Regions from separate parts of the Homo sapiens genome. Here region 2 is linked to region 1. The links come from fine-mapping of genetic effects on plasma protein levels. A gene starts in region 1. The other region holds a variant in brackets. All regions are shown on one strand. Distances are from middle to middle.

The links. PIP is the posterior inclusion probability: the model's chance that the variant is causal. The UK Biobank Pharma Proteomics Project read protein levels with antibody pairs (Olink). The fine-mapping took linkage between variants from a reference panel, not from the people measured, so its PIPs are less certain.
Region 2: its variant is fine-mapped to the plasma level of the IFNGR1 protein (UK Biobank, PIP above 0.99).

What each region holds. Positions count from the first base shown.
Region 1 is chr6:137,209,613-137,226,203 of GRCh38, reverse strand. It overlaps IFNGR1 (interferon gamma receptor 1), which reads left to right and starts at 6,819. Exons shown (of 7, transcript NM_000416.3): 1 at 6,819-6,961. The coding sequence starts at 6,877. RefSeq lists enhancers at 6,349-6,598, 6,449-7,179, 8,620-8,679 and silencers at 6,639-6,868, 6,909-7,128, 7,589-7,638.
Region 2 is chr6:137,186,691-137,203,281 of GRCh38, reverse strand. It overlaps IFNGR1 (interferon gamma receptor 1), which reads left to right. Exons shown (of 7, transcript NM_000416.3): 6 at 2,274-2,401; 7 at 4,643-5,797. The coding sequence ends at 5,251. Among named protein-coding and RNA genes, the nearest start is that of IL22RA2, 21 kb to the right of the region's middle. The variant G/A (reference allele first, on the strand shown) is at 5,292.

The DNA of each region.
Region 1 (16,591 bases):
TTTACTGAATCTTGGAATCTAAGCTAAAAGGACAAGCCTGGTGTTAACTTCGAAGTGATTAGTGAGAATGCCAGAGAAATTTACCTCCCCAAAGATACCTGCGTTTTCATTTCAAGGAAGAATTAAACCCCCAGGACCATGGAAACATCTCCTGGGATGTAAAGCCAGAGACACTAGTCTCATCTTTCCAGTGGGGAAATTTATTTACATTCCAAAAGCTAAGCTCCCAGAATCTTTCTTTCTGTTCCCAAGGAGAATGTGTTTATACCAGGGAGCAATGGATTTCTCGTCTTTTCTCACAGCGGGAGGGGAAAGTTGGCCCTTTCTCCTATATAAATGCCCAGATTCATTTTGGAGGGTGTCCTCACTTACAGTAGACACCATTACATATAGGATGACATGTGCAGCCTACATGTACATCTGGGTCTCATTGCATAGCCCCAGAGATAAGAACTGGGACAAAAGAGAGCTGACAAAATTATTTGCTGTAAGTAAAAAAAAAAAAAAAAAAGAAAAGTGTTCTGCTCTAGAAATCTAGTATTGGCATTCAAGATAATCACATTAAATATAGATACTTAAAACTTAACAGGACTACGTGCCCTGCCTAGAACCAATGAAAATGGAATTCTCTCTGCTGGCTAAACAAAACACATCTGTTGGCTGAATTTAGGCTCTGAGCCTGCCTTTTGAAAAATGAGCCATCATACCATGATTTGAAAGGCACCCAAAAGACCCTTTTGCCCAAGGCAAACTATCTTATTGTATCCTTTCTTGTCAAGACCTCCAGTGTCACCACTGGACACATTGGTTCTTCTAGTTAAGAACTGTTCGAATGTCAAAATATCTAGGAGTGTCCACCCCAAAATGGTTATCAAATATTGATGTCAATAAATTAATTTGTTCAATTTGTTCATCTATCATTACCCAGAGCCATCTAAGAGCATCTGCTACGGAACCATTGACCTAGATGTTGATGAAAGATAAGGATGGAGAGACACTTTCAGCTGAAGCCTTGTGAGCTAGGGAAGTTTTTGGTATTCTCCAAGTAGGAGGACTCTGGGCTTCTGAGAAGCAGCAAGAAGTCACTGGGCTTTGGTGTGTGGTGAAGGAAGTACGGAGACTGGAGGGGGAAGATGCACTGAAAGAGGAAGTATGAGGCTCTGAGGACAAACTGCATGCTGCTTTAGATTACTCAGTTCTTTTTAGCAACAGTTTTTTTCAGCCTGGTGTTTAGTGTTATATTGGGAAATGTTTTCTAAAAGAATAGGGTAGCTGCCCTTTATGATGCTGAAATGGCCAAAAATTTCATGGCTAGAAATGAAATTCATTGTGCTTTTTTTTTCTTTTTCTTTTTTTTTTAAGACAGAGTCTTGCTCTGTCACCCAGGCTGGAGTGCGATGGCACAATCTCAGCTCACTGTAACCTCCGCCTCCCCAGTTCAAGCCACTCTCCTGCCTCAGCCTCCCAAGTAGCTGGGACCACAGGCGTGTACCACCACACCCACCTAATTTTTGAATTTTTGGTAGAGATGGGGTTTCATCATGTTGGCCAGGCTGGTCTCGAACTCCTGCCCTAGTGACCACCCACCTCAGCCTCCCAAAGTGCTGGGATTACAGGCGTGAGCCACCACACCTGGCCTGTTGCGCTCTTTTAGTTGCAAGGAACAGAGACATTTAGGTTACCTTTAGTGACAAGGGATGTTGGTGAAGATGTGTGGGAACATCAGAAGAGGAAAGCCTCGCCAATGAGCTAGTGCCCAGGGAGCACAGTGAGGGAGCACTATTCGGGGCACATGGCAGTTCTGCTAAGCCTCTGGCTGCTGGGCCTCTTGTTCTCCCCTCAACAAGTGATCTTCTTTGCTTACTATTCTAGTCTTCTACATCCTGTACTTGAGTTTGTTGTTTCTTCTTTTCTCCTTTCTCCCTTCCACTCAGTCATCCTCTTCTCCATCATGGTTTACATTCCAACTCTCTGAAAGCCAATCTATTTAGGTTGGCCTGACATTGAGTAAAAAAAAAAAAAAAAAAAAAAAAAATCTGCACGATTAACAGAAAATCGAACTGATGGTGACTTAAATCAACAGGGGTTTATTTTTTTCTCCCATAGGCCAAAGGCAGGTGGTCATAGACATTAGTTCAGAAACTCAATGCTGACGATGATTCAGGCTTTCTAACTTCCTGTTCTTCCACTGGTAGCTGTTGACTTTTCATCTTCAATCTTGTTGCCTCATGGTTGCAAACTGCCAAGATCTGCTGCAGATCTAGGCGTCACTGGATCTACATTCAAGGCAAGAAGATTGGAAAAGGGCCAAGGCCAGCAAACTCTCCCATTGCATCTGCCCCTTCTATGAGAAAGGAAAAGTTCTCACAGAATGCTTTCCAATCCTCTTCCCCATTATACACCTGATGACCACCACACACACACATGCCTCACAGACTTCTGCTTGTGTTTCGCTGACCAAAACTACATCATATACCTACACTTAGCTGCCAAAAAGGCTGGGAAAGTGAGTAATGAGCCTGTCTAGCCTCTGCAGTAGGGAGGCAGCAAGATAGAAGGGGACCGAAAAGAGCTGTTAGCAGTCAGCTAATGAGTAGTATCTGCCACAGTCACCACGCAGCATGTGGCATCTACCCTAGGCAGTGCTCTAAGACAAGCCAACTACTAGAATACTTGACTGTCTATGGATAAACATCTTCAAGCCAGGGGTTGGTCTGATACAATCGGATGTCAGCATGAGAGCTAAGAGGAGGGTTGAGTGCAAGGCAAGAGGATAGTGCTTTGTTGAGTACCAGTATGATATCCAAATATCTCTCTAAATTCTTATCAGTGACCCAATTATAGCTTAGCCAGCCATAAATTCAACTATACCTGCTTCAGTCCCACACCTCTTTACAAGCTTGTTTTGTTCATCATATATTTATTTAATAAGTGGCCACAGACATTGGTTCAGCTGCTCAATGCTGACAGTGATGATTCAGGATTACATACAATTGATGATTCAGGATCATCAATATTCCATAAATATTAATGGAGTAATAGGCACTTGGCTAGGTGCTCGGGGTCTGACAGTGAAGAAAACAAATTTATTTTTTAGAGGAAGAGGGAGACTACTGAAACAAAATTTTCTACGTGTGTATATACATATTTTATGTATGCACACACACACGGATGCATTTCATTAAATCTCAGATTAAGTCCCTGTTTACGCACCTATAATCGTGTTGCTCTCCTTGGTAACAATTACTACAATTTCAGTAATTATTTGTGAAATATATATATATATAAAATGCATATATTTAACACATACAATTTATTCATATTTAATTCAAATTTAATAGATATATTAAATTTCCAGTAGAATCTCCAGATAGTAGTAAGTACTATGGAATAAACAAAGTTAAATAAGGGCCAGTGTAAAGGCATGGGTAGAGTGTGAGAGGGCAAGAGTATTGGCTATAATTTACAGACTAATCAGCGGAATTTAAACTATATGCTTCAGTTACAAATCTTCACGCTGTCTCCTTTAAAGGGAAGCTGGCAGACATTTCTGCTTTGGAGAAAAGAGGAAGGAAATGCACTGTGCTCAGAGCCAAAATGCACAGTTTGTTCCACACACACAGGCTCTGTTCTCATTGGATCATATTTCTAGCTTCTTAAATTGTTTTATTTGGCCTATTAACTTGAAAGGCAGGTGAGTATGGTCTTCAAAATGTAGCCTTGCTCCTGAGCAGCAGCACTTCAGTATACACTTGGCTTTGGAATGATCTACGCTCCACCCCAATTTGTTTTCTTCATTTTAAAAACTAATCTGAGGCTCTAGTGGGGACCAACGTATACTTGGATATTCCCCAGCCATTAGGCATTGGAAATTTATCAAGGAAAGCTGGCACCGCTCATTTGTTTCTGTGTTAGCTGTATGAGATTTTTATATGGGATTTTAAAATACAGTTTATTGCTCTTCTTCCTACCTCTCTTATTAGCCGGTGGCCACCCCCATCTTTTAACTTTATTCAGGCTAATTTTACCTTATCCTTCAGGTCACAACATAATGGTAACTTCCTTAAAAAAGAATTTCCCTAAATCCAGACACAGTGGCTCACACCTGTAATCCCAGCATTTTGGGAGCCTGAGGCAGGAGAATCATTTGAGCCCAGGAGTTTGAGACCAGCCTGAGCAACACAGCAAGACCCCAGCTCTATAAAAAATTTAAAAACTAGCCGGGCATAAGGCCAGGCGAGGTGGCTCACTCCTGTAATCCCAGCACTTTGGGAGGCCAAGGTGGGCGGATTGCTTGAGCTCAGGAGTTTGAGATCAGCCTGGGCAACATGGTGAAACCCCATCTCCACAAAAGACACAAAAAAATGCCTGTGGTCCCAGCTACTTGGGAGGCTGAGGTGGAAGGATGGCTTGCGCCCGGGAGGTGGAGGTTGCAGTCAGCTGAGATTGTGCCACTGTACCTCAGCTAGGTGATACAGTCAGACCCTGTCTCAAAAAAAAAAAAAAAAATTAGCCAGGCATGGTGGTGTACACCTGTAGTCCCAGCTATTTGGGAGGCTGGGGCAAGAGGATCATTTGGGCCCAGGAGTTTGAGGCTGCAGTAAGCTATGATCATGCCTCTGCACTGCAGCCTAGACGACAGAGTGAGACCCTGTCTCAAAAGAAAGAAAAAAGAAAAGAAAGACTTTCTTTAAAATGTAGACTAAGTTAAATTCCTGTTTATACTCCTTTAATCTCTTCCCATTGCTCTCCTTGGGAATGATGATCACGATTTCAGTACTTGTGTAATTCCTTGTTTAACAGCTATCTCCCTCAGTAGACAGTAAGCTCCGTGAGGGCAGGGGCCATGTCTGTCTTGCTCAGGTCTTTATCTCTGTGCCTGGTCATGTCAGTCACAGACAGTATCACTTGATAATATTCACCCAATTAATAAATATATTTAGTCTCCAAATGACTAACTAGCAAAGTCTTCAGAAGGATACGTAGGGTGGTGGGTGCTGTGATTGTGAAACTTGCCCAGATCCCTCTCAGGAACAGAAGACTGGGTTCTGTCCCCTTCCTGATGCTAGGAGGGCTGCCAGTAGACACCCTCAACCGTCAGCGTTCCTCTGGGGAATGCCTCCATGAAAGAAATGGACAGCCCCAAAATCATGACAGTTGGTATTCAATGACTAATCAGTGCTGGGCTTTAAGACCCAGCCCCTCATACCAACTCAAGACACCTTTACAAGGCCATCCCAACTCCAGAGCGCCCCTTGGGAGCCTTTACTGGGATGGCATCACAGATCAACTTCTTCCTCCGCTCTGCTTCCTCCACCTCCCCTTCACAGACGTTTATTCCAAGAGCACTCCCTAATCAATCAATGCCTTATACCTTAATCTCGACCTCAGAGTTTACTGCCAGGGTAACCCAGCCTGTGACAAGTACCACAAAAATGTTTACAAACTGGATATCATATTTTGTCCTACTCCATAGACGCCTAAACGGTAAAGATCAGTTATTTATCCTTGCATCCTTACAACGACTAGAAGGTGTCTTTCATATAGTGGACATCAGAAACACATCAAAGGAAATATTCTCCCTAAACTTAGTCTAGATTGAGCTAAATTCTTCTGATTCAAAGTGTGGTCCTGTTGAAAGGGGCACCAGCATCCCCTGTGCATTTTGTCCGAAATACAAAATCTCAAGACCCAACCTGAATTAGAACTACTGAATCCAAATCTGCATTTTATCAAGATCCCCAGATGGTTCACATGTATGTTGAAGTTTGAGAAGTACTGAGCTAAGAGATTTATTAATACAAGTAAAATGATCTGGCTGATAATACCTCTAGTTTATATAGTGTCTTTATAAGGATTTTCCCTCTTTAAAAATTTTCCTTAACACTAGTAATCATGCAGTCTTTCACTCAACAAATACTAATTGAGTGCCAAGTAAAGATGTCAGCTCTACGGAGCTTACATTTTAGAAGGAGAAGAAAACAAATATCAAGGTGTATATTATAGTGTACAGCAAGGTGAAAAGTGCCATGAAAAAACAGTAGGGCGGGGTAAGGAGGAGGAGAAGGTGTGTTGCAATTTAAAATTTTTAACAAAAGTTCATGATACTCAGAGAATTGAAACAGGTGAGATCATTAGACATTCGCATGTTTGAGCACAAGCGCTGAAGGACTTAGCAATGTGGCTGCAGTGGAATAGGAGAGATGCAAAATAACAGACAAACCCAGAGAGGTAAGAGAGCAGACCTCTTCATGAGAGGCTGCCTGATAAACTGATTTGACACTGAATTGCTGAGAAGGTAATGCAAATAGTTTTTTTCTCCAAGAACAAAGTAGTTCTTGGTCAAGCCGATTTGATTTGGGCTGTGGGAATCTGCACAAACCATTTCACTAGCTAAGTCTCAGGTTCCTCAAATGAAAAAGCAGGGACTGGAAATGGCTTTTGAAGTCTCATTCTCTTCTAAAAATGTCAGGCTCCAAGACAACCAGGTGAAGTCCAAGAGTTAGTAAAATAAGGATTGTGGCTCGGCTGTGGCCTAATGCAAACTTGCACAACCCCAGGAAACCGAAAAAAACTGGAAGAAGAATTGCAGAATGGGGTGCCAGGTTGAAAGACCTTAACCTTTGCACTCAAATTCCTCCCACACCCAGAAGTCCAGGTCCCGACCGCACGACGCCGTGCTCACTGCTGGGTGCTGCGCCTGAGTCCGCCTCCTGCGGCTTCCCGGACTTGACCCCGCCCACGCCCTGGTCCCGCCTCCTGCCGACGCCGGCACAGACCCCGGTGACGGAAGTGACGTAAGGCCGGGGCTGGAGGGCAGTGCTGGGCTGGTCCCGCAGGCGCTCGGGGTTGGAGCCAGCGACCGTCGGTAGCAGCATGGCTCTCCTCTTTCTCCTACCCCTTGTCATGCAGGGTGTGAGCAGGGCTGAGATGGGCACCGCGGATCTGGGGCCGTCCTCAGGTACCGTCGTTCGCGGCAGGGCTGCGGCCGGGTCGGGACGAGAGGGAGGGAGGGATCCGCCCCAGCCGGGAAGCCCCGCCCCGCTTCTCCGAGGTCGCCCTAGCCCGGGACCCCTGCGTCGGGCCCTGAGCGGGCGACGGGGACGCGAGGTGGGGTCGCGAGACTGGGGCTCCGTGGTTTGAACTCGTCGGTTGCCTTTCTCCTGCCTCTTCCCTGGTTGCCGCCACAACAAATCACGCCGCTTGTTTTTCCGACTCTTGTAATCCACTTTTAAATACGATTATGCGCTGCAGAAGGACGTTGCTGGTCAATGTGGGACAGCGTGGTCTCAAAGATTATAATATCGTCTTCTTACTGTACCTTTTTTTATGGTTAGATACGCAGATACTCACTAGTATGCTACGGTTGCCTGCAGTGTTCAGTGCAGTGACAGGCTGTACAGGTTCATGACCTAAGAGCAGTAGGCTGTGTCATCTGGGTTTGTCTGGGTTTCTACTGCCCGAAGAAATTGCCTAAGGGGACATTTCTCCATTTCTCAGAACGGATCTCCATCGTTAAGTGACGCATGACTGTGAGTGTCCTGATCAGCATGTGGCATCGTGGTCTCAGTTCGTGGCTTAAATACTTCTTTCTTAGCGGGGGTGGGGGGGGGGACTCAAAGTGCTTAGGGTAGGAAAGTATGCATTATGTCGCCAGCTGAGAAGTAAGTGGCAGCTGAGAAGTAAGTGGCAGTCCGTCTTAGGTCTCAGTCTGGAAGTGGTGGATTGCCGGCACTCACTAGCAGATTTGGCAGTAGGTCTCTTCGTACGGGTTTGTTCTTCGGAGCATTTTATTTCCACCTGCTTATTGACATTTCCTAGAAAACAAATGTTGAGGGTGGCTTTTCTGAAGTGCAGAGTAATTGTGATTACGAGCTCCAGAGAAAACAGTAAACCTTTTCAATTCAGTTTTCTTTTTTTTATTATGATTTATGATTCATAGGGACTTTGAAAGGTCCACGTTTTGGTTCTGTGTTCACAACAATCTTCTGGAGTAGGCGTTATTTGTCTCTCTCTTTATGGACGAGAAATTGAGTTACGGAGAGGCCTGCCCAACTGGCAGAGAGGTCATAGCCACTCAGTGGGGAGCTGCTCAATTTGGCTCCAGAGTCCAAGTTCTTAACTGCTCTTCTAGGCTCTAGTCAGTCATCCACATGGGCAGTTGCAGTACTTTGCGGTAAGAGCTTGCACTTAGGCACAGACTAGTGGAAAGCAAGGCGGGGTGCTTGTCTCTTTTAGGGAAGTCAGTGAAGACTTCACAAAGGTGACCCCAGTGTTGGAACCAGAGGTGCAGAGACTGAGGTGCAGAGGTGTGATAGCATGTTGAATTCGTGGAATATTAAGCGTTCTATTGTAAAGTGTGTGTGAGAGCTTACAAGGGGAGGAGATAGGTTAGGTGGAGAAGTAGGAACCAAATAATGAATTGCCATATTATGTGTACCAGCAAGAAACCTAGCTTTATTAACTTAAGCAAAAAGAGGAATTTATTGTCTCAGAAAAACCAGAGTTAAACAGAAAATTATAGATGCCAGCTGGGTCTCAAGAGGCTAGAACCAGGAACCCAAACTGCTAGGACTCTCCATTTCTTATTTCTGTCTGGGTATTGACAGCTTTCCACACTTGGCAGGAATCATGGATGCTGACAGCTTCTGAGTTTTGACATCTTGCAGCCTCCTCCATTCTAACAAAATGCCAGGGAAAGGCTCTGATTTGCCCAGCTAGGTTCAGGTGCCAGCTTGCATGGGAAGGACATTCTCGTAGAGGGTTGGGTTGGGTTACCAGAAGAAGCGGAATGGCGTGCCTGAAGTACAGGTGTTGAGCCAACAAAATAATACACCCACTATGCCTTGCTGAAGTCAGTCATTATTTACTAATGCTGACATCATTGGATTATCAATTACAAAGGGAAATGATTTTATGCAGGATCAGACATGCCATTTAGAAAGACCAGTCATCTTATAAAATAGTTTGAGGGTAAACACAAGGCCCATTAGGAGGCTGCTGCTTAAGTTGGAGTCGATAAGTAGTTTAAGTGGAGAAGAGGACAGTTAGCAGAACATTTAGAAGGAAGAGTTAGTAGGCCTCTGACTGGATGTCAGCAGAGAAAGAGGATAACGCTAGCGCAGGCATAGCGTTAAAGCAAGTGCCAGGCCCTTCCTTCTGAATACGGGGCCCTATGAGTGCACCGTGTGACCCCTGTGAGTGCACAATTTGCACGTCCTTGTAGCTTGCTCTGGGAGGAGGATTGCCTGTCTGCCTCCCGTGGGAAGATCAACTGCAGCCTTCTATATTCTGCAGAAACTTTTGAATTTGTCTCTGTACCTCTCGTTCTAAAACTGGGGTCACTTTTGTGAAGCCTTTCCTGACTCCCCTAGAAGAGACAAGCACCCCGGCCTTGCTTTTCATTAGTTTCAGTGAGCCCTCTTTTTAAAGTGCATTTCTAACACATTTCTCTAGATTTTTCAGTGCATTTCTCTAGATTTTGTTGTGTTCCCTGTTCTTTTAAAGTTAATTTAAAACACAAAATCTCCAAAGTAGGAAGAAACCAACAATGCTCTGGCTCTTGCTTAGCTTCCCAGCCTTATTCTTACTGTTGCTGGGCTTGACTCTATAGTTGAAGTTCATCTTAGATGAGAGGACCTGGTAAGAACAGGGAAGCAGACAAGTGAATATGGTGATATAGTCAGTCTCCAGGAAATCCAGGTGTTTAGGAATGTATTGTGTTACATTCATGGGCTTTCATTAATACTTCTTAAGTGAAAATAAAATCTGTGTGTGCCACTTAATCAGTAGTATTTCACTCTTCATGCACTTTTACACATAAAAGTAGTATATATTTTTAAGTGAATCAGGGTGTGCCACTGGCTTTCTTCATCCAGATGAGTGTCCCACTCTGAGTAATAGCTGAAGAGCTAGGCTGGACTTCACACCAACTGGAAGGCTCTTCACTGACCTTGTACAGTTTATCAGCTATGCTTCCTACTAATTATCTGACTTTAGGATAAAGCTCTGAGTACTGTTTAAATTTTTCACTATTTCTTTGGATTCTATAGTTATTTCAGAGATTCAAAATACACAGGATAATACTTTTTAATTATATTTATTGAATAGGGTATTAAATTTTCTTTTTCATTTTATTCTGATTCATAATTCACACAGACTTTGAAAGGACCATATTTTGGTTCTATCTAAAAGAAAACCTAGGCTGGGGGCAGTGGCTCATGCCTGTAATCCCAGCACATCGGCGGAAGGATCACTGGAGCCCAGAAGTTCAAGACCAGCCTGGGCAACATGGCAAAACCCATCTCTACAAAAAAATACAAAAATTAACCCTGTGTGGTGGCATGTGCCTGTAGTCCTAGCTACTGGGGAGGCTGAGGTAGGAGGATCACTTGAGCCCAGGAGGTCTAGGCTGCAGTGAGCCATGATTGTACCACTGCACTCCAGCTTGGGCAACAGAGCAAGACTCTGTCTCTCGTGTTTGTGTGTGTGTTTGTGTGTGTGTGTGTGTTTGTGTATGAAAACCTAAAGAAAAGTAATAAACAGCTATCTTACAAAATTTGGCAGCATACCAGTAGTGAAGTTGCTTTACAAACCAGATGAGTAATTAATGGTTCAATTTTGATTGAACAAAGAATCAGAATGAGGTTTGAACCAGAATGAAGTGAATTCCTAACAGAAAGGAATTTACTTGTAATTTTCTTATTAAAGGGGTGCCTTTATTTTAGATTATCCTAATGCATAGTAATCAGAATACTAGGTATCTGTTTAGGTCTTGTGTATTTTTAAGAAATTATTCATTTTAATGCATTGTTCAACTTTTGCAGTGGCCATAATATAATTGTGATAATGTAATAAAATCAGGAAACATTACCTGAAGCAGATGCTTTTGAAGTCACCAGAAAATAGTCTTCTCCAATTCCAATTTAAATATGGAGGTAATTTACCCCTTATTTTATTAAACGATCACAAAGATGTTGGAAGCATTTTTCTTAATGAAAACCAACAAAACTTTGCATATTGTCAAGTTACGTAACTTCTCTAAGCCTTTGTTTTCTCATTGGTAAAATATGTATGGTAACATTGTCTCCCTCACGGGATGGATGTGATGAGTATCTGAGGTAATGCATTAAAAAGGTAAGCACACTGTGTGTCTTGTAGTAAATACTTAATATGTTAGGGATTATTCAATAATGTGCATTATTATTTTAACAAATATATCTTTAAATATTAAATTCCCTTAGTCATATGTGAGAAATTGTGTTGGCTTTTAAAAAAACAAACTTAACCAGATCAGTATGAGAAACTTAAAACAGGCTCAGCAGCTAACTCATTCTTCCATCTCTTCCAACAGACAAAAAAGTTTGGTTTTTTAGTAGACTGGAAAGGCCTGCATTGTTTTTTCATTTCCTCAACTGTTTTTCAATTCAGAATGAGTTAGTCCAAAAGAGAATTAGTGTTGAGAAATGACTTCTCTCAGGGACTAGATTGGTCTGGTCCAGTCAGAACTAATGCCAGACCAAACCCAACTAGATGAAATTGGATAAATAGGAGTAAGAATAAAGCCCTGGATTTCAAGTCAGAAAAGTGGCTGAGCAGATATTTATTGGATAAGCCCCAACTTGGTGGTGGTGCGAGGGAAAAATATAGGGGAGGTTAGTTACTTACAAGTTCACTGCAGGCCACTATGTGTTATGCCTGGCTCTTTAAAAAGAAAAATTTCAATTAGAAGATTTCAATGAACACTTGAAACATCACCTGCAAGAATTATCAAAATGTCTGTACTCAGCTTAAACCTGGGGGATGCGGCTCCTTGCTACGGTGAAAGTTGGAAAGCATTAAGAAAAATAGTCATTTTATCACCACTGGAAGCCATTCGGGAGGGAGATTGTAATCAAATATGTTCTGACAAAAATACAAAGGCCTTGATTTGGTACTTTTCATTTATTCAGTGTGGATTTCTTATGCTGGTTCTGTTTGCTGTGCAGATGAAACCTTTGTGACAGTCCCCATTCCTGTCCCTGTATCTTTAACATGGGGAAGGTGTTAGATCTTCTCTGAGAGTTGTTCTTAAGGAAAAGATCCAGATGCTTTAATTTGAAACATTTGTTTTTGAGTTGTAGTGTCAGATGACTTAGAATCCAGAACAACAGTTTACTTCATCCTCACTTCCTTATGCTTCTCAGCGTGCTCTTCCCATGAAGAGGTTGGTGAGCAGGTTGTCAGATGATTTCTGCAGAGTCCATAGCCCTGTTCCACCATAGATGTACAAACCTTTTATACAGTCTTTTTACACTAGTGTGTTAAGATGGGTGATGAACTCCTCGGGCTGTCCTTTTTTAAAGAGACACAGATGCTTTTGGTGGTTACAGGATGGACTCAGGTAGCAGCCCTGGTTCCTGTCACCCAGCTATGCAGAGGAAATGGCCAGTGTCTTCAGACTATACTCTGCAGGTATCTGTAGTTTGCCATCCACCCTACATTCACCAACATTTATTGCAGAGCTATCACGACTGCTATTTTTTGGTCCTTTGTGACATTGTTATGGTCCCGTCGATAGCACTGCTCTGTATCACCTGCTGATCTTCACTGGTCTTTTGTGTTGTCTCTCTTTTTTCATATCCTGTCTCTTCTGGCTTATCAGCTTTCTGAGGAAACAGTTGGCTTTAACCAGGGCCCTCCTTTTTTTTTCTGCATTGTAATTAAAGTGTTAGGAAAAACAAATTCTTCTCTCCTGTGTTTAGTTTTCTTAAATTATCAGCTGTGAGTTGTAGGGGAGTTCTGGGAATTAGATCTTAAAATAGCTAAAGTTTACTCCGGATAGTATGCAGATGTAATACACTAAATAATTCTGAGTCCATTTCCAAAAGCAACATGAGTTACACAAAACTATCTTGGCATTTTCAAGAGATGGGAAAATCTGTAAGATTATCTTATTTCATGAAATCACTCTGGTAAGATCTTTTCTTAAGCCCCAGAGATAATAATACTCTTTTGCTGTTTCTACATATATTTTTATTTACATAGTGTAAATGTATTAGAAGTTAATTGTAAGCCTTAATTAATTTAATCTGAATATATAACAATTTAAACCTCACATTACAAAATTCTGAAGCTTAAGAAAACTGCTTATGTCTGTCATATTATTTTGGCAAATAATATTTGGCAAAAAATAATATTTGGCAAAACAAAGGCAGATGTCTAATAACCACACAGTTTCTCCTCTGGTAGCATTAAAAACCACAGATTACATCTTTTGGTGTAAATTTATAAGTTTTTCTTTTAACCTAGTAGTAATTTCTTTTTGCTATAAACCATTGAAATATTTTCCTCCTACCACCTGTCTGTCTTGCTTTGAAAGCTATGATTTAAGTCCTTGTCCTAGTCTAACCATATCAGGCTTTTACTTAAATTATAGGAAACATACTTTGATTCACGTTAAAAACTAATCTAATGCTGCACAAGCCTACTCCTGTTTGTAGTTTTCCATTGTGTGATTCAGTAGCCCCTTCCTAAGTACAAATGCACTTTGTTTGATATTCTAGTATGCAGATTGACTTCTATATGCCTTTTTCTCACAGGAATTTCAGGTTGAGCGTATACCATTATAAAGCCATTCCTACTGGGTATAATTAAAAAGAGAGCCTTAGGCTGGGCCCGGTGGCTCACACCTGTAATCTCAGCACTTTGGGAGGCCCAGGTGGGCGATTCATGAGGTTGGGAGTTTGAGACCAGCCTGACCAACATGGTGAAACCCCATCTCTACTAAAAATACAAAAATTAGCCATGTCTGGTGGTGCAAACCTGTAATCTCAGCTACTCGGGAGGCTGAGGCAGGAGAATCGTTTGAACCCAGGAGGCAGAGGTTGCAGTGAGCAGAGATCATGCCATTGCACTCCAACCTGGGCAACAGAGCAAGACTCTGTCTCAAAAGGAGGGGAGTGGAGCTTAAAAGGAAGCAAAGGATTTCCAGTCTTGGAAACCTAGAGGAAGGGGGGTCCTTGCTATGTAGTGGCAGAAAGCTGAGTGACACTGTAGCCTTCAGTGACACCAAAAGTAGAGAATGTCTGAGGAGCTGTGTGATCTAGCTCAGGAGGTTTCTAACCAGAGTGCTGAAAGTGCCACCTGGTTTCTTCTTGCGTCTTATAGTAACAGGTGAGACTTTGCTCAATCATGGGAAGAACTGTTAAAAAGAAACCAGGACCACCTGGTTTGAAAATTCTCAGCCTCTCGAGAGGCAAAAAAATGCCAAAATGAAGAAATGGTCTCCGAAGGAAGGCTCAGATTTAGTATGAGTTTTCTTAGCATCAAGTACCTCTGTTTTCCGGTTGAAAAAGTATATTTATATGTGTGATTGTTATTTGATATTAATGTTGATTGAACCCAGGTGAAGAGGAATGACTTTTATTTCTACCTAAAATATGGATTGTGAAGTATTTGAGTTGTTTCAGGAGGTTGAGATGCAAACGTGTGATAGAAAAAAGACCCTCTTAAGGAAGCCTCAGTATCCCCTGCTATGAATGGCCATGGGAACTCTACAAAAAACAAAGAGCCAAGGCTACTCTGGCAAGAACAGTGCCTTAGGGATCACCTACAAGGAAGTTGCTTAGAGAACCAGAGATGGCAGGTACCAAGAGCCTTCAGCTGCGCCTCTGGAAGCAGAAGGAGAAAACCTAGGTGTCTGGTCACTGGCCACAAAAAGGTCAAGTTAGTAGTATGAAGTATTTGAATCTTCAGACCCTCCCCAGCTTGATAATCTCAACCTTTTGGCCCAAATTATTACACCATTTTGGTAAATAATATAGAAGTTAGATCTTTTGGCAATAACCAAATCTATTCATTTGTTTGAGGGGAGCCATGAAATATACAGGTTTACTGTAAAGCATTCTGTTTTTAAGTTAGTTTTTCCTCAACTTTTTTTTTAAAGAACACTTAAATTGTAAACATAAAGCAGGGTTTCTCAACCTTGGCACTGCTGGCATTTGGGGCTATATTATTTTTTGTTGTGGAGGCTGTCTGATGCATTGTAGGATATTTAGCAGCACCCTTGGTCTCTGCCCTCTAGATGCCAGCAGTACCTCCCCCACACACTTCTTCTCCAGGTTGTGAGAGCCAAAAATGTCTACAGACATTGATTGCCTAATGTCTCCTGGCAACAAAATCACTTCCCACAGAGAACCACTGCAATAAAGGAAAAAATAATCAGAAAAGGAAAATAATAATGGTGATAGCATTTAATTGTCCATTAGTGCCTATTATTTACCTAAAAAACTCTTAATCCATGTTCTGCTTTGAAAATATATGTGTTAAATAATTGTAAATTAAGGCAATATACCAGTTTGGTCTTGAATATTGGAATTTTTGTTTGGGGAAAATATAGATTTTCCCTTCAGCAGTAAGCAAATATCTTAGGGATATGAAAGTAACACCTCATGACAGATCAGGAAATCTGAAGTATTTAGCAGTGTGGCCAAGAAAGAACCCAAATTTATTAATGTTTGACCTAGGGAGTATTTTTCTTATTTAAGCAGTCTGCTTGATATAAATATAAATCATCATCATTATCATCCAAGGCACTTTGGAAAAATAGAAACTTCTGTCCCTCTCACAATTTTTGAGGATGATTATAAGTTATGTTTGGAAGCCACTGTTCCTATCCACATGGACATTCATTTATTTGTTTTAGTTATATAAGTAAATCATGTTTAATAGAGTGTTCCAGGGAGGTGAGATTGAATAACCATAAATTTGGGGTCACATCGCTAACTGTGTACATTCATGTTTATCTGTAAAGAAGTGAAGGGAGAAAGGAGAAGTGTGTGTGTTCAGTTTTCCAAGGGGTGTTGGATAACAACCTTTTACACCAAACAGTGGGGAAAAATGACTCCTTTTTTTTTTTTTCTAAGAGAACTGAATGCAGTGGCACAGTCACAGCTCACTGCAGCCTTGACCTCCTGGGCTCAAGCAATCTTCCTCAGCCTCCCGAGTAGCTGAAACTACAGGCACAGGCCTCTTCACCTGGCTAATTTTTTAATTATTTGCGGAGACAGGGTCTCCAACTCCTGAGCTCAACAGATCCTCCCACCTCAGCCTCCCAAAATGCTGGGATTACAGGTGTGGGCCACCGCACCTGGCCCATGACTACTTTTAATAACTAGATTTTGGTAGTGTCTGATTAGATGTTAAAATGACTTCTGTCTGTTCTCTTACGTGACTCAAGTCTTATCAACAGATGTTTTCTGAAAGAGTGAAGGCAAGAAGAAATGTTGGGTATGTTTTGTAAAAAGCCCTGCACACCCCAGAGAGCAGAGTGTTGATGAAACTGGAATGTGTGGCTCCATTGTTCAATCTTTAGGTATCTATTCCTGTACTATAGAAAAAGTGTGGAAGGCATAAATAGTAGTATGTGTAGAGTTGAGAGGTTGATGGTATTTTAGAGTGAAATTGGCCATCCTCATTGTAGCCAGTTCCTCTGTAGACATTTGTATTAGTCTGTTTTCGTGCTGCTGATAAAGACATACCCAAGGCTGGGAAGAAAAAGATGTTTGATTGGACTTACAGTTCCACATGGCTGGGGAGGCCTCAGAATCAC
Region 2 (16,591 bases), 23 kb after region 1:
CCCTTGACCCAGGAAAGAAAAAATATATAATAAGTACATAAAACTACACAAATGTTTGCATTTCAGGATTATGAATTATAAGTCAGTTTGTTACTTCACCATAGCAAGATGTTGTGAATCCACTAAAATGTTCTTTATGGGGATTGTAATTTAAAGACTGAAGAGCAGGAACGATCACTGGTTACAACTGTATGACGTGGACTGGACAAAGACTCGAGATTAATATCCAAAAAAGTTTATAGATGGGTTTGAATAATAGATAATGGGTCATTTTTATAACATTTTACAATAATTAATTTTATTTCATCTTTTAATGTGGGGGGTGGGGAGGTAGAGATATATATGCTAGAACTTGAACTTTAGAACTGTTACTCTCAGGTGTCAGGAACCTTAAAGAAGTTTGGACTTTTCTTTGCAGTTAGGAAATGTAAGTGTTCATTATAGATAATTTATAAAATATGAAAAACCAGAAGAAAACAAAATAATCTGTAGTTCTACCATGCAAAAATACCCCATTATTCACAGTTTGATATTTTCTTTAGTTTTTCTACATAGACATGATCATATTGTATAGTATATATGATTTTGTGTATTGCTTTAAGCATATATTGTAACTCATGCTTTGATGATTATCTTTGTGTGTGTGTGTGTGTGTGTGTGTGTGTGTGTGTGTGTGTGTATACATATATTTTTTTCCTTAGGATTTTTTTAGAATAGATTTCATAGGTTTAAAATTTTATGATGCAAGTATATTTTCGAGGAATGGAAATATAGGCTGAAGAGCCAGAACAAACACCTAAAATTCAATACTAATAACTTCAAGCCATTATATGAAGGTTTCAAATAGGTGATTTAAAGCAGTGCAATGCATTTTATGCTAATTTTCGTTATGCTATTTGAAAAATAAAACCCTTCTTAATGCTCAAAATTTGAAATAATGCAAATGCCGCAGATTTGTTTTTAGCCTGAATTATACACTGCACTGATAGTATGGCCACACGGTGGCATTGCCGTGGCTCCTGAGCAGCAGCCCTGCCTGCTTGCCTCAATGCCTTGCAGCCAGCACTTGCTCAGCCCGTGGGACTTCTAACAGCACTAATGTTGGTTTTGTAGTTATTTTCCTTTTTACTTTTGTAATGATTTAACTTTTTTCACACCCTGTAATAAGCGTAATAGAAGCATTCATTAGTAACTTCCATAGTTAGAAAATTCTGGGTAACAAAATGCCCTAAAGGATGCCGGACATTGTCACAGTATGTTAGAGTGCTGTTAATTTGGAAGAGAGAACTATGAAAAAAAAAAAATACTGAAGATTGTGCTGCAAAAATAAAAGGCAGCATTACAGCAAAGTACACAATGGTGATTCTAGATGTATGTGCTTGGAAACAAATCTTTCCTATTTTATATTATTTATGTCTGGTTTATAACTAAGGGGACTTTATTCCTGTGCAGCATTGCTGTGTGCATGTACATCTGTGAAGCTTTATAAGTATTTGCAGTCGTGAAATAAATGTAACAGGAAATTCTGAGGAGTGGGGCTAAATCATCTTAAGAGCAATAAACATTGCCAGAATTTCTTTCTTTTTTTTTTTGTTGTTTTGTTTTGTTTTGAAATGGAGTCTCGCTCTGTCACCAGGCTGGAGTCCAGTGGCACAATCTCAGCTCACTGCTACCTCCACTTCCCAGGTCCAAGCGATTCTCCTGCCTCAGCCTCCCACGTAGCTGGGACTACAGGCGCATGCCACCACACCCAGCTAATTTTTGTATTTTTAGTAGAGATGGGGTTTCACCATGTTGGCCAAGATTGTCTCGATCTCTTGACCTCGTGATCCGCCCACCTCGACTTCCCAAAGTGCTGGGATTACAGGCTTGAGCCACTGTGCCCAGCTGCCAGAATTTGTTTCTAAGGAGAGGTATTTTTAAAATTATTCTTTTGCATTTTTAACCGAAAGAAATGCATAACCCTGGAAACACACTGTATGTAGGGCTGTAAGGAAATTATTGTAGAAAAGCTATTTTAACTATGTTGTGTCATAGTAGAATAGTCCCAGAAAGTTCTAGAATTGCAGAGCTGGGAAGAACCATATTGCTATCTAAGACAGATACCTAATTTTTTACTCAGATTTCCTAACTTCTGCTTCCTTCAGTGTTCTTTAAAACTCTGGCCCTATTCACTAATTTGTAAATCTATTCAAGAATGGCACTAAGACTTTTTGATAGATAATAGCAGTATTCCATCTTAATTGTAACTTGTGATTTCTGCCTTTTTTAAGGTTCTCTTTGGATTCCAGTTGTTGCTGCTTTACTACTCTTTCTAGTGCTTAGCCTGGTATTCATCTGTTTTTATATTAAGAAAATTAATCCATTGAAGGAAAAAAGCATAATATTACCCAAGTCCTTGGTAATGTATTTAATTTTTTTATATACACTAAAAAGTTAACTTGAACCTTTTTTGATAGTTTCTTAAATTATGTTTTTAAAGTAGAATGATATTCAACAAGATGTCACCTGCCATCAATCAGTCAGTCTACCACACATGCAAAATCACATACTGTGTCTTTTGCTGTGCAGCAAGTATTTTGTTTTTTTTTTTATTCTCAGGGAAAAACACGGTGAGACAATTCTGTTAAAGATCTTAAAGTCTAGGGGGAAGAAAAGATAAATATACATTGGCTATATAACGTGTGATAGATTCAAAGATTTATACCTGAGCCCATGAGGACTTTGTCCAGCTTTGGGGTGGGGTTAGTCATGGCTTTTCCAGAGGCAATGCCTGAGCAGTCTTGAGGGACATACAGGAGTTTAGGCACTAGGGGACAGAATGTGCTGAGGTCCAGAGCCAAGAAAGCATGACTTTGAAAGCTCTGCAAATACAGAAACACTTCATTATGGTTGGAGTATGAAAGGAAAGTTGGCCAAAAATGAGACTAACGTAGGAGTTTGACGATTTTAATGTCCAACATTTCAAAGCCTTTGATGTAAAGAACATTTAAAGGTAACAGAATAGTATCTATTTGAGTCAAATATGACAGGAATAATATCTGTGATGCTCAAAGGGCACATTAAAATTTGCTATAAACTACCTTTAAAGTGGATAAGAACTCTCAACAGTTAGTAGTCAACTCACAAATGAATTATAATATTTTATTCTTACTAGTAATTAAGCACAAAGTAACCTTGCAGTATGCCATTTTACACGCGCTAGAGAAGAAAAAAGAAACCTGGATATCCAGTAGTACCAGCAGTAGCATAACGGGTAAATGCTGGTGAAAAGTAATCTAGCCCTGGTAAGAATAAAAGCACACAGTGGGTATTCAGTGTAATAGTGACGTAAACATACCATTTCTTTGATATGGTCACTCCACTCTTAAAAAATGTATTATAAGGAAATAATTTCATAAATAAAAAGATGTACAGGATATTTAACATGTTCCATAGCTAGTAAAAATTGGAAACATTTCCCCATCTATTAAATTATTTATCAGTATAAAGAAATAATATGAGCTACTAAAAATTATAATGATGAAGGCAAGTAATGAGAATATTACTTAAGTAGATGTGCCCACTTTGTAAACATAATGTGCGTACATGTGGAAGATAATTGTATTAGGATTCTCTAGAGGGACAGAACTAATGGAATATATATATAAAGATATATATATAATACCAAATAAACTCCCCTTTATATAAATCTATATTTTATATATTATATATTATATATATTTTATATGTTATATAATATATATTATATATTATATATAATATATTATAAATTATATATTTTATATAATATATTATAAATTATATATTTTATATAATATAAGTTATATATTTTATATATTATATTATAAATTATATGTTTATATAATATATTATAAATTATATATTTTATGTAATATAAATTATATTTTATATAATATATTATAAATTATAAATTATATATTATATATTATAAATTATATATTATATAATATATATTAATTATATTTTTCATATATATATATATAAAGGGGAGTTTATTTAGTATTATTTAGTATTAACTCACACGATCAGAGGTCCCACAATAGGCCATCTGCAGGCTGAGGAGCAAGGAGAGCCAGTCCAAGCTCCAAACTTGAAGAATTCAGAGTCCGATGTTCAAGGGCAGGAAGCATTCAGCATGGGAGAAAGATGTAGGCTGGGAGGCTAGGCCAGTCTCTCTTTTCACATTTTTCTGCCTGCTTACATTCTAGCCATGCTGGCAGCTGATTAGATTGTGCCCATTCGGGTTAAGGGCGGGTCTTCCTTTCCCAGCCCACTGACTCAAATGTTAATCTCCTTTGGCAGCACCCTCACAGACACACCCAGGATCAATACTTTGTATCCTTCAGTCCAATCAAGTTGACACTCAGTATTAACCATCACAGTAACGTACAAAAAGCAACATATATTAGTAAGATATCTGATGGCTTTTTAAAAATTCTAAAACTTTGTTTTTAATATTACTATGGGACCTTTCATTAAAAAGAAATGGCAACATCTGATTCACCCATTATCCTAAATGTGCCATTTGGTGGTCCATTACTTCAGACCTTTGTTTTTTTTGAGGGTAGGCACTTAAGCTTAACAATTTTTTATCTTTAATCAATTTTTCTCCCCATAGATCTCTGTGGTAAGAAGTGCTACTTTAGAGACAAAACCTGAATCAAAATATGTATCACTCATCACGTCATACCAGCCATTTTCCTTAGAAAAGGAGGTGGTCTGTGAAGAGCCGTTGTCTCCAGCAACAGTTCCAGGCATGCATACCGAAGACAATCCAGGAAAAGTGGAACATACAGAAGAACTTTCTAGTATAACAGAAGTGGTGACTACTGAAGAAAATATTCCTGACGTGGTCCCGGGCAGCCATCTGACTCCAATAGAGAGAGAGAGTTCTTCACCTTTAAGTAGTAACCAGTCTGAACCTGGCAGCATCGCTTTAAACTCGTATCACTCCAGAAATTGTTCTGAGAGTGATCACTCCAGAAATGGTTTTGATACTGATTCCAGCTGTCTGGAATCACATAGCTCCTTATCTGACTCAGAATTTCCCCCAAATAATAAAGGTGAAATAAAAACAGAAGGACAAGAGCTCATAACCGTAATAAAAGCCCCCACCTCCTTTGGTTATGATAAACCACATGTGCTAGTGGATCTACTTGTGGATGATAGCGGTAAAGAGTCCTTGATTGGTTATAGACCAACAGAAGATTCCAAAGAATTTTCATGAGATCAGCTAAGTTGCACCAACTTTGAAGTCTGATTTTCCT[G/A]GACAGTTTTCTGCTTTAATTTCATGAAAAGATTATGATCTCAGAAATTGTATCTTAGTTGGTATCAACCAAATGGAGTGACTTAGTGTACATGAAAGCGTAAAGAGGATGTGTGGCATTTTCACTTTTGGCTTGTAAAGTACAGACTTTTTTTTTTTTTTAAACAAAAAAAGCATTGTAACTTATGAACCTTTACATCCAGATAGGTTACCAGTAACGGAACAGTATCCAGTACTCCTGGTTCCTAGGTGAGCAGGTGATGCCCCAGGGACCTTTGTAGCCACTTCACTTTTTTTCTTTTCTCTGCCTTGGTATAGCATATGTTTTTGTAAGTTTATGCATACAGTAATTTTAAGTAATTTCAGAAGAAATTCTGCAAGCTTTTCAAAATTGGACTTAAAATCTAATTCAAACTAATAGAATTAATGGAATATGTAAATAGAAACGTGTATATTTTTTATGAAACATTACAGTTAGAGATTTTTAAATAAAGAATTTTAAAACTCGTTTTTGTATTCATTTATTCAAGCACTTAGGCAGTCTTTCATAGTTAAGCAGAATATTTTTATATCCACTGCTTGTTTCCATGCATTAATGCTATAGGATTATTTGCTAATTGTTCATATTTAATATTTAAAACAACCCTAAAAATAATATTTTTAAATGGTCCTTATAGGTCTATATTTCAGTGCTTAACACCCAGTGTGCAGAACACTGTTCTAAGTGGTTTGAGAAGAAAAGATTTAGCTGTAGAGCATGTGGATTGAGGAATCTAGCATAAAGGTGGTGGGCAGAGCCATGGAAATGGATGGAACCTTGAGAATTACATGGTGTGGAAAGAATCCCCAGTGAGAGGCAAACCAAGAGTTAATATATATGTTACCCAAGGATTTCTTGGAATTACTAAGAGGATAGAAATATTCAGAAATTAATATGAATCTGTGAATTAATGGACCAAAAAAAATGAAATACAATTTACATGAGTAGCAAATCACATTTCTTTGGTTTCTGGAAAGATATTTCTCTTCACTTAAAAATGCAAATTACAAATGAGATACTATCAGTGAAAAAAGTAGTGGTGTGGTTTGCAGTGGAACTGGTATAGTCACTGATTTTAGGGTAATGTCTTGTAAATTGCTTTTCAAACTGATACCCCATACATATCACATTCCACAAAAGTAATATCCTTCAACAGACTTTGATCTCTCTTGTGGGAAAATTACAAAAAAAAAAAAAAAACTACATGAACAATGCACACATTAGAATGGGAAAAGCAAAAATATGAAAATAATTGAAATAGCCAAGGAAGAGGTAATACTTACTACCCTCCAAAATGATTATACCAATGTGTACTCCCATCAAATGTGAATGAAGTACCTGTTTTTACACCCTAGCTAATTGACTGAAATAAGTCTTTAATCTCGGTAAAACACTTTACACATTAAATGCATTTGCATTTCTTTAGTAAATTTGAGCATGTTTTTATATCTTATTTATAGTTTCATGCCAACTCATCTTGTTCTTTGTCCATTTTTTTATGGGCTGTTTATATCTTTCTTACTACCCTTTATCTGCCCTGAGTTACAGATTTATTTTATAATTTCCTGCCTTTTGACTTACCACACAGATGTTTAAGTTGTTTATAAAGTCAAATTTATTTATTTCCTTCTATTTTTAAAAAGCCCTTCCCCTTTCCCCAAAAGATAGAAGTTTTCACTCATGTTTTCTTCTGGTCTTTGGTGATGATTGTTTTACATTTAATTCTTCTATCCATCTAGATTTTTTTCCTTTGAGGACAGAGATAGAGATCCAGCTTTATTTTTTTGTTTTAGTTTCCTGTGGCTGCCGTAATAAATTACCACAAACTTGGGTGGCTTAAAACAACAGAAATTTGTTATCTCACAGTTCAGAGGCTAGAGGTCTGAAATCAAGGTTTCAATAGGGCCAGATTCTATCTGAAAGCTCTAGGGGTGGAGGGCCCCTTCCTAGTTTCTAGTGATTGTTGTCAATCCTTGATATTCTCTGACTTATGGCTGCATTATTCCAATTTCTGCCTCTTGTCACCTGGCATTCTTCTCTGTATGTCTGTGTCCAGATCTTTATAAGGACACCAGTCAATTGGATTGATTAGTCCCACTCTAATCCAGTATGACCTCCTCTTAACTTGATTACATCTGTAAAGACACTTTCCAGTTAAGATCACATTCATAGGTACCAGGGGTTAGGACTTCAACACATCTTTTTGAGGATACAACTCAACTCATATATTTCCCTTAACAAATTAGTTATCCCAAATACTATTCATTAAATTATCTAACTTTTCTATGCTGATTTCAAATGTCACATTTATCACATGCCAAATTCTCAGCACTCCTGGAACAGTTTTGTTGTTCAGTCTTTTCCCGTCTATGTATCACACTTTTAATACACATTATACTGGGATATATTTTATGTTTTTTTGAGACAGAGTCTAGCTTTGTCACCCAGGCTGGAGTGCGGTGGCACGAACATGGCTTACTGCAGCCTCAACCTCTTGTAATCAAGCAACACTCCTGCCTCAGCCCCCCAAGTAGCTAGTACAGACGCTCATGACCATACCTGGCTAATGTTCTGTATTTTTTTGTAGAGACAGGGTTTTGCCATGTTGCTCAGGCTGGCTTCAAATGCCTGTGCTCAAGCAATCTGCCTACCTCAACCTCCCAAAGTGCTGCAATTACAGGCTGTTTTGACTTCTGAGGCTTTCCTGAATACTTTCAGCCAATGTTCATTGCTCATATTTCTTAGCAATAATTATTTATTTATTTACTTACTGTATTTTTAGTAGAGACAGGGTTTCACCATGTTAGCCAGGATGGTCTCGATCTCCTGACCTCATGATCTGCCTGCCTCGGCCTCCCAAAGTGCTGGGATTACAGGTGTGAGACACTGCGCCCTGCCAGCAATAATTATTTTTTAGGTGAACTATAACCTAAATTTTTTGGCCAAGTTTTCCCCCAAATTTTAAACTCCTTTGGGATTTATGTTGGCATTGTTTTGACTTTATAAAATGTTTAGAAATAACTAATATTTTCAAGGGTTGAATGTTCTGCAAGAATGGAGACTATTTCTGTCTTCAAGTCTTACATCCCTCATTAGAGGTTTACTTCATACAGGTGTAGAAAATTTACTAAGTGTATTCCTTGATATTTTATGTTTTTTGTTGCCTATGGGAATGTCATCTTGCATTGTGGCTCCTGAATGGCTGTCTATATGTACACGCACACACAAACTATTGTTACAAGTTGTTTTTGTATCTAGCCAACATCTAAACTGTTTTTTCTTCATGGTTTTTAGTTGATTGGTTTTCCCAGTGTACAAACGTGTTGTCTATAAATAAGAGTAATCCTGCCTTCTCATCACCAATATTATATTTTGTTTTTTATTCCCTTGTCCTCAAACTTTGATGAATTGGTATACGCTATTTTCCAAGAGTGATTGACCAAACCTGGTGGCTGTGGGCAAATCGCTTAGCCTCATGAGAGGGTTGGATTACATTCTCTCTATCTTTTGGCTCTTAAGAGTCATTGCTTCCATTTGTGTTAATTAGTAAGAGCATTGGCTGGGTGCGGTGGCTCATGCCTGTAATCCCAGCACTTTGGGAGGCCGAGGCAGGCGGATCACAAGGTCAAGAGATTGAGACCATCCTGGCCAACATGGTGAAACCCCGTCTCTACTAAAAACACAAGAATTAGCCATGCGTGATGGTGCATACCTGTAGTCCCAGCTACTGAGGAGGCTGAGGCAGGAATCGCTTGAATCCAGGAGGCAGAGGTTGCAGAGAGCTGAGATCACGCCACTGCACTCCAGCCTAGTGACAGAGCAAGGCTTCGTCTCAAAAAAAAAAAAAAAAAATTAAAGCATCATCTTTCCAACACAGTTTTGTGTCTAAACTTAATTTTTTTTCCCCTACTTATTTCTGGTTACCAGAAATTCACGTTATTGAACCATTATTCATGCCAAGTTAAATTGTCTTAAGATTACTGCCTGGGTCCAATTTAAGGTACCACTTCTTATGCCTGATAAGGATATAAGTGGATGACTTAGAAAATAAGTGCCAGCTTTGTTTGTATAGTCATTAGTTAGCTTCATTTATGAGATGCAATACTTACTCTACCTTCCACCGCCCTGCAAATAATAACTGGTCTCTCCATTGGTACTGTTACAGGGCTTTAAGGCTTAACCACGTACCCCAAGCTCTCTTTGCTCCAGTATCTCCTCTGCCCAGGAGATAAGTGTCAGATATTTAATTGAGAGGAAAGAGTGGCAGAGATATGTTCTGACTAGCACATTCCCAGAGTGTCCTTTCTAGAGCTAATTATAAAATGTTATAATACCCACAATGTATCTCCAAAATTAAATATTGAGCAGATATCTACCAATAAAAGGTGAGTAGTAGAGAACACTCACACATTGGCTTCTCAGACAGCCTTTTTAAGGAAAATTCGTGGAGCTGAACAACACAGGTATGTAGTCAGACTGGATGTCAGACCCCAGCCCTTGGGCTATGGGACATTTTTGCTACATAACCAGAGATGTGCCAGTCCCTTTCCTGGTATAAAAAGAGGTGAGGGCCAAAGGGGTCAGTAGGTACTTCACTCAATTCGAGGGGCCTCTGATCCATCTGAGGTGAGGCCACTTTTATTTCACTTCTGACACCATCTTGTGAACCTAAATAACAGCAAGAGTCTCTCTAAAAGAAAATAATATTTGAGAATGGGTCTTGCAATGAGAAAATAGTAAACTGCCTGTGTATTCAGGGAGATAAAGGAAGACAAAAGTTTTTAAAAGAAAAATGAAGATGACCTAATTGTATTGAGATAATTAACCTTTACTATGTAAGCCAAAAATAAAATTGTAAGCCCTCCCCACCTCAAACCATCTAAACGGACGCCCCCTCTTGGCCAAGCGCATTGTAAAGTTAACCTGAAAAACTAGTTCAGGCCATGATGGGAAGGGAGAGTTGGATATAACTCAGTATACCCTCCTCCCTTTTGGAACTTAGGAAAAGCTGACCAGCATTAAACTTACGTCTGATAAGAAACATTTTCAATCTATTCTCTCTGAAATCTGCTACCTGGAGGCTTCATCTGCCTGATAAACTTTGGTCTCTACAACCCCTTATCATCATAACCCAGGTATTTCTATTGATTCTGGGTCTTTGGGTAACAACATAACTCTTTCAACAAATTGCCAATCAGAAAATTCTTAAATCTACCTATAACCTGGAAGCCCCCACTTCAAGTTGTCCTGCTTTTCCAGATTGAACCAGTGTACATCTTACAGGTATTGATTGATGTATTATGCCTCCCTAAAAAGTATAAAAGCAAGTTGTACCCTGACCACCGTGGGCACATGTCATCAGGACCTCCTGAGGCTGTGTCATGGGCACATGTGTCATGGGCACATCCTTAACCTTGGCAAAATAAACCGTCTAAATGTATTGAGATCTGTCTCAGATACTTTTGAGTTCACAAATTGGTGATGAAGGGATTCTGAGTGGAGGTGCCCCTGACCTTTGATGAATCTATTGGTGCTTGGTACCAGCTTGAGCTATCCTTATGGCTCAAATCAGAAGGACAATTTGCTGAGGCCTGGGAGTTCCCCCTCCAGAGAATCCCTGATCTCTCAAAATTTGGTCGAGATCTAAAGCTTATTTTGCTCTACAACTCCTTTTCTGGAGTTTTACTTGATTCCAACAAGGAAAGCAAGTTTTTCTGCTTCCATGATGATGCATAGCAGGTAACTCATTTCTGGAGTTTCAGCTAGTTTCCGATAGGGAAGGCAAGAACCTTATGTCTGTTCCTGTGCACCTTTCCAGGTATTTTTCCTGCTTCTAAGATGGTAAAGAGCAATCTTGTGCCAGGGCTCTATTCCTAGGTAAGTAGCAAGAATTGGGATTTTTTTGTCTTGGAAATTCTCCTTAATGACTACAAGTTGAAATTGACAAGCAGCTGGTTTTAATTTCTCCTTACCGTTAGAGCACTCAGTAATCATATTGTTGGGGTTTTTGTTGTTCTGATCTTTCTCCCATAGGATTTGATCAACTATAACAGACTTGGTCAAATTCCAATGAGAATTCCAAATTAGGGGAAACAAGGCCTCTGAATTGGCTAAAATTCCTGGCAGCTGCACAAACAAAAACAAAAACATGTGCTTGGTTTCTGTGTTCACTTCCTTTCTTAAAAAAAAAAAACAAAAAACAGTTATTCTTCTGTTTACTTTTGTTCCACTCTATTTTTCCTTCCCCCTTCACCATCTCTGGTACCAAGAAAAATCTACAGAAGGGTTCTAATGTCTCAGACCCCTTAAAGAACTCAGAACAAAGGCACCACTCCCACCCCCTTTTGGGGTGTTCTGTTTTCTTTGTGGGGTTTCAAGAGTCATGGGCAGATTCTTCTTAGATTTAAAACTCTGCTTTCCTGTATTGCATTACCTGACCCTCTTGGCTTTTGCGGGCACCAGAGATTACCTTGTACTGTGAGAAGATGTGACCTTGGAGTGTGTAATGGCAGACAAGAGCTATAAAGTTAGGAGTGGCTGAGGACAGTTTACAGCTGGTCTTAGCTTTTTCCACCCCGCTGCCCCCACCAATGAAGTTGTTGTTTAGGATCCTAATTCTAGTTCAGAGGTGCATTCTAAAGAGCTTTCTCATTGTCTTCTCTCCCAAAATTAATCTCGATTGGCTTGTCTGTGTATTTGTGAGAGCAACTAAACTGTTGTTTTTGTAGATAAATGTCAGACTGAGTTTCCTAAGCTCTGAAAAGAAAGGGCATTTTGCTCCTTCCAGCCAAAAGGCATCCCTGGGTTACTGGGGTGGAGCCTAAGGGGTTGACTACCAACCCCATGAAATGCAGCCGCCCTACAGGGAACCCCCAGCAAAATTAGTTTAAAAAGGTTCATCCAGGAAGCTCATGTAGGAACTCCATGTTTTGAGCACTCGGAGGTCTAAACCTCCAGAGAGAGAAACTGAGATACATAAGAGGGTGGCAACGACTCACTGGTGACACACTGTGGAGCCCCACCCAGAATCAGCATATTTTGACCCACTAAACTAAAACTTAGGCCACAGCTCAGTTCCTCCTTTTAAGAAAATATGTGGGGAATAAATTAAGGATATGGAAAAACAAGAACAAGGCCTCTCAGGCACCTCATTTCGTTTCATGGTGCCTCTACTTGCAAGTGGTTGTGTAAATGGAAGGGCGTGCCAGGTTTTCTAATACTCCAGCTGGTTACACATTAGGTCTGTTCTTGTGCGCATTTTAAACTGATGGGCAAATTACATCAAGGAAAATTCAGAACCTAAAGTTCAACCTGCAACTCTAAAGTTCCTAAGTTCTCTATCTCTGTTTTCTTTTCCACCTGCTTTGTCTGCTATTATTAACACATTTCTACTGAGATAAAATCCACTGTTTGCATCCAACCGTTTCTTTTTGTTATTGTTTTTGCAAACTGGTAAGTTTATATTAATATCTCATAGCTAAAATTTTGAAGTGAAAGCAACAGGATCTTTGTATGAGTGTGTATATGTGTGTTTATGTGTACAAACATGTATTTTATTATGTGTTTTTGGCCACAAGGTACTAAAATGGCTTAAAGTTGAAGGGTACTCATACATTAAACAATAAGCCCAAATGCTTTTCAAGGTCATGTGACAAGTAAAACCTTTTATAAATAAACTGGCTTAAAATTATTGGTCAAGTAATATTAGAAATGTCTTATAAATTGTCAACATATATTTTTGTTTGCATTTATTGATCAGCAATTTCATACTTATCCCTGACAAATACTCTGTGTCAAAATTTGACATAAAGTTTATAAAACTGTAAACCCAACCGTTATGGTTGGATCTGTATCCCCACCCAAATCTCATGTCAAATTGTAATCCCCAGTGTTGGAGGAGGAACCTGGTGGAAGGTGATTGGATCATGGGGTAGTTTCTCATGGTTTAACACCATCCCCCTTGGGGCTGTCATGGTGATAGTAAGTTCTCATGAGATCTGGTTGTTTAAAAGTGTGTGGCACCTCCCCAACAACCTTCTCTTCCTCCTTCTCCAGCCATGTAAGACATGCCTGCTTCACCTTCACCTTTCACCATGATTATAAGTTTCCAAGCAAAAGCTGCTATGCTTCCTATATAGCCTGTAAAACTGTAAGCCAATTAAACCTCTTTTCTTTATAGATTACCCAATTCCAGGATTTTTTAATAACAATGTGAGAACAGACTAATACACCAACCCAAAACAGAATGATCTTTGCTTGTGTAGTTTTTGACAAACAAGATATCAAATATTGTTGGTTTAATGAAAACAGCTAAACTTGGAATTATTGGTAAAATAACCATATATTTAATCCTGAGGTTCTTACTTAGGTAAACACCTGAACTTCATAGGCTATAAAAATCATTGACAGGGAAATAACTTTAAATGATGACTATCACAGTTTTCATAGTCTACATAAAATATTAAAATAAAATAATCAGGTAAATGTAAAGGGATAAATACCTGTAAATAAACTTGTCATAATTTAGAATATAAAATTATATTAAATTCAATAATAGATATTTAATTAAATATCTGGGTATTTTCCAATTCAAAAAATTATATTTTATTCTTTTTTTAAAATATGTTCTTATTAAAAGGTAAATAATTTTTGTCTAATTCAAAGCTTATTTAAAAGTCCTGTATAAATAAGAATGTGAAAGGAACCAGGAAATAGACCAATATAAAGAAAAGTATAGATATACAGAGGTATTTTTGGTAAGAAAGCTTAAAAGAAAAGTAATTTTGTATGAGAAAAATATTGTTTGGTGAATTTTTGTCCTAAGATAAAATGACCGAGTTATTCCAGAAAGAGTGACACTTAGGTCAAAGCAGAAAGTCCAAGCATGTTGTGAATGGTCTGTGTAAGTCATAATAAAGTTAGTAAAAAAGAAATTTATACAAATGTTATGTGATTAAGTTGTCCATAATTACAGAAAATTATAATCTTTTTTTTAAATTGAACTTTTATGTTAAAAATACACTAGACTGGGTGCGGTGCTCACGCCTGTAATCCTAGCACTTTGGGAGGCCGAGGCGAGCAGATCATATAGGTCAGGAGTTCGAGACCAGCCTGGCCAACATGGTGAAACCCTGTCTCTACTAAAAATTAAAAAATTAGCTGGGCATGGTGGCAGGTGCCTGTAATCCCAGCTACTTGGGAAGCTGAGGCAGGAGAATCACTTGAACCTGGGAGGCAGAAGTTGCAGTGAGCTGAGATCGCACCATTGCACTCCAGCCTGAGCAACAAGAGCAAGACTCTGTCTCAAAAAAAAATACACTAATAAATAACTAAAGATTTGGTTAGAACAAGATTTTATTTAAAATATTGAGTTACTCAATGCACAAAGTTTTTAATTTTTAAATTCTGTAATGTTTCTTTTTGAAATTATTCAAATTGATATCTCAGTCCTTTTTTCGCTTTTGAAAAGGCCTAGGATGGTAACTCTCTCCTTCAACTTTTGTTTGGCCTTATAACTTTTTTAAATTAATAATCTAAAGTAGGGGAGAGAATTTTTGAAAAGAGGCAAATGAAAAATCTTTTGGACCTGCCGTTTTCTATATGTCTGTTATATCTACATGTTTACATGTGCCATGTGGAAGTGATATTTCACTAACAAGTGGTACAAAAGAGCTCTAATCAATTGGCTTGGAGAATGTTAATGCTTATCAGACTGATGGAACCTAGCTCAGATGCCTTTTAGCTCACATGACTAGTAATCTTTGGTAAGATTAATTTGGTAAATTTAATCTCAATTATTTCCAGTAATTTAAAATCTTAAAGTCATGTTATGTTTAAATTAAGTAAACCTAGGTTACTTTTTTCCCCCACTGGGGATTTGGGTTAATAAGTCATGTAATGTTTAAATTAAGTAAACCTATGAGTTTTTTTTCCACTGGGAATTTGAGTTAATAAGACTTAAACTAGTAGGTGAATAAAAGGTGTTTTTGGTGAGGTTTCTGAAAACACAAGGAACTAGTTTTTGCTAAAGAAAATGTAATTTTTTTCTAGAGACTATTTATGAATCACTCTAAAATAAAGGAAAAAATTATATAGATAAAACTAAATGGATAAAGAAAAAAATAAAAGGGTGTGAAATGAGAAATCCTGACTCTTGAGTAGCCATGTGGTTGCCCATCTTAAGGAGCTGCAGCTGGGCTATAGTCAGTTACTAAAAGTAAAAGTTACCAGTGGAATTAGAGATGGATCCTACTCATACTCCCAGGGAGTTAGTTCCCTGAATGCATAAGGGAAGGCAAGCTAATAAGGAAGAAAAATGTTTCATCCTTTGGTTATTATCTGTAAAAGCTGAAATGAGAGTAAAAGAGTGTTGGGTTGGTCCTTAAGAGTGGACCAAGACCAGAAGTGGGTCTGTCTCAGCTCAAGCCTCTAGCATCCAAGCTACTCACAAAAATATAAATTAAACCGGGGCAACAAAGTTTACCTCTGAGACCTGTGGTTACCAAGAAGATAGTAAATGTAGGGGCAGGGCAAAACAACTATTAAAACCAGAGGCTATAATGTAAAGGAATTGTTCCATTTTGTAGATTGGTATAGTCAGCTTCCTGAGACACTTTTACTATAATGGATTTAAAAATAACTAATTTAAGGATAGAATCCTTAATTTTAAATGCTACAGAGTGAAAGAGCTTCTTTAGTTTGATCCATGACCCACAGCTCACTATTAAATCTCTAATGAGTATAAGTGATCCAAATGCATAGGAGGTTATTCCTGAGAGAACATCCAACCCTAGTGGACTGGATAAATGCCACTGTAAAGTCTGTTTACCCCAAGAAAGGGACTGCCCAACTCTCCCTATAAAATGCCAAGTGGAGTAACCCAGATGAAGCAGTAGATATGATTCATAAGCAAGCCACATGGTACTGGCTTTATGATGACCAGGATATTCTCCCACTTTATATGCCTATTACCCAGGTCATGGTAAATTTGGGGGTTAAAGAGGTCCCTTTTACATAGGCATCCCAGGTGACATTTCTCCGACAGAACCATACAATTGTTTGACAAGTTGTATCAAATTTGCTGTCCCTTGTGGGTCTTACAGATCCTTAATAAAATGTTGAGGTAATTTAAAAAAAAATGAGAAAGGCAAAAGAGAGTCAAAGGAGTCGCCCCAGAAGGGTGATAGAAATCTTTGGATGGTTGTTAAGAAATGAAATAAATAGAATGGAAATTGAGGGGGTTAAAACAAAGGTATTTAAAA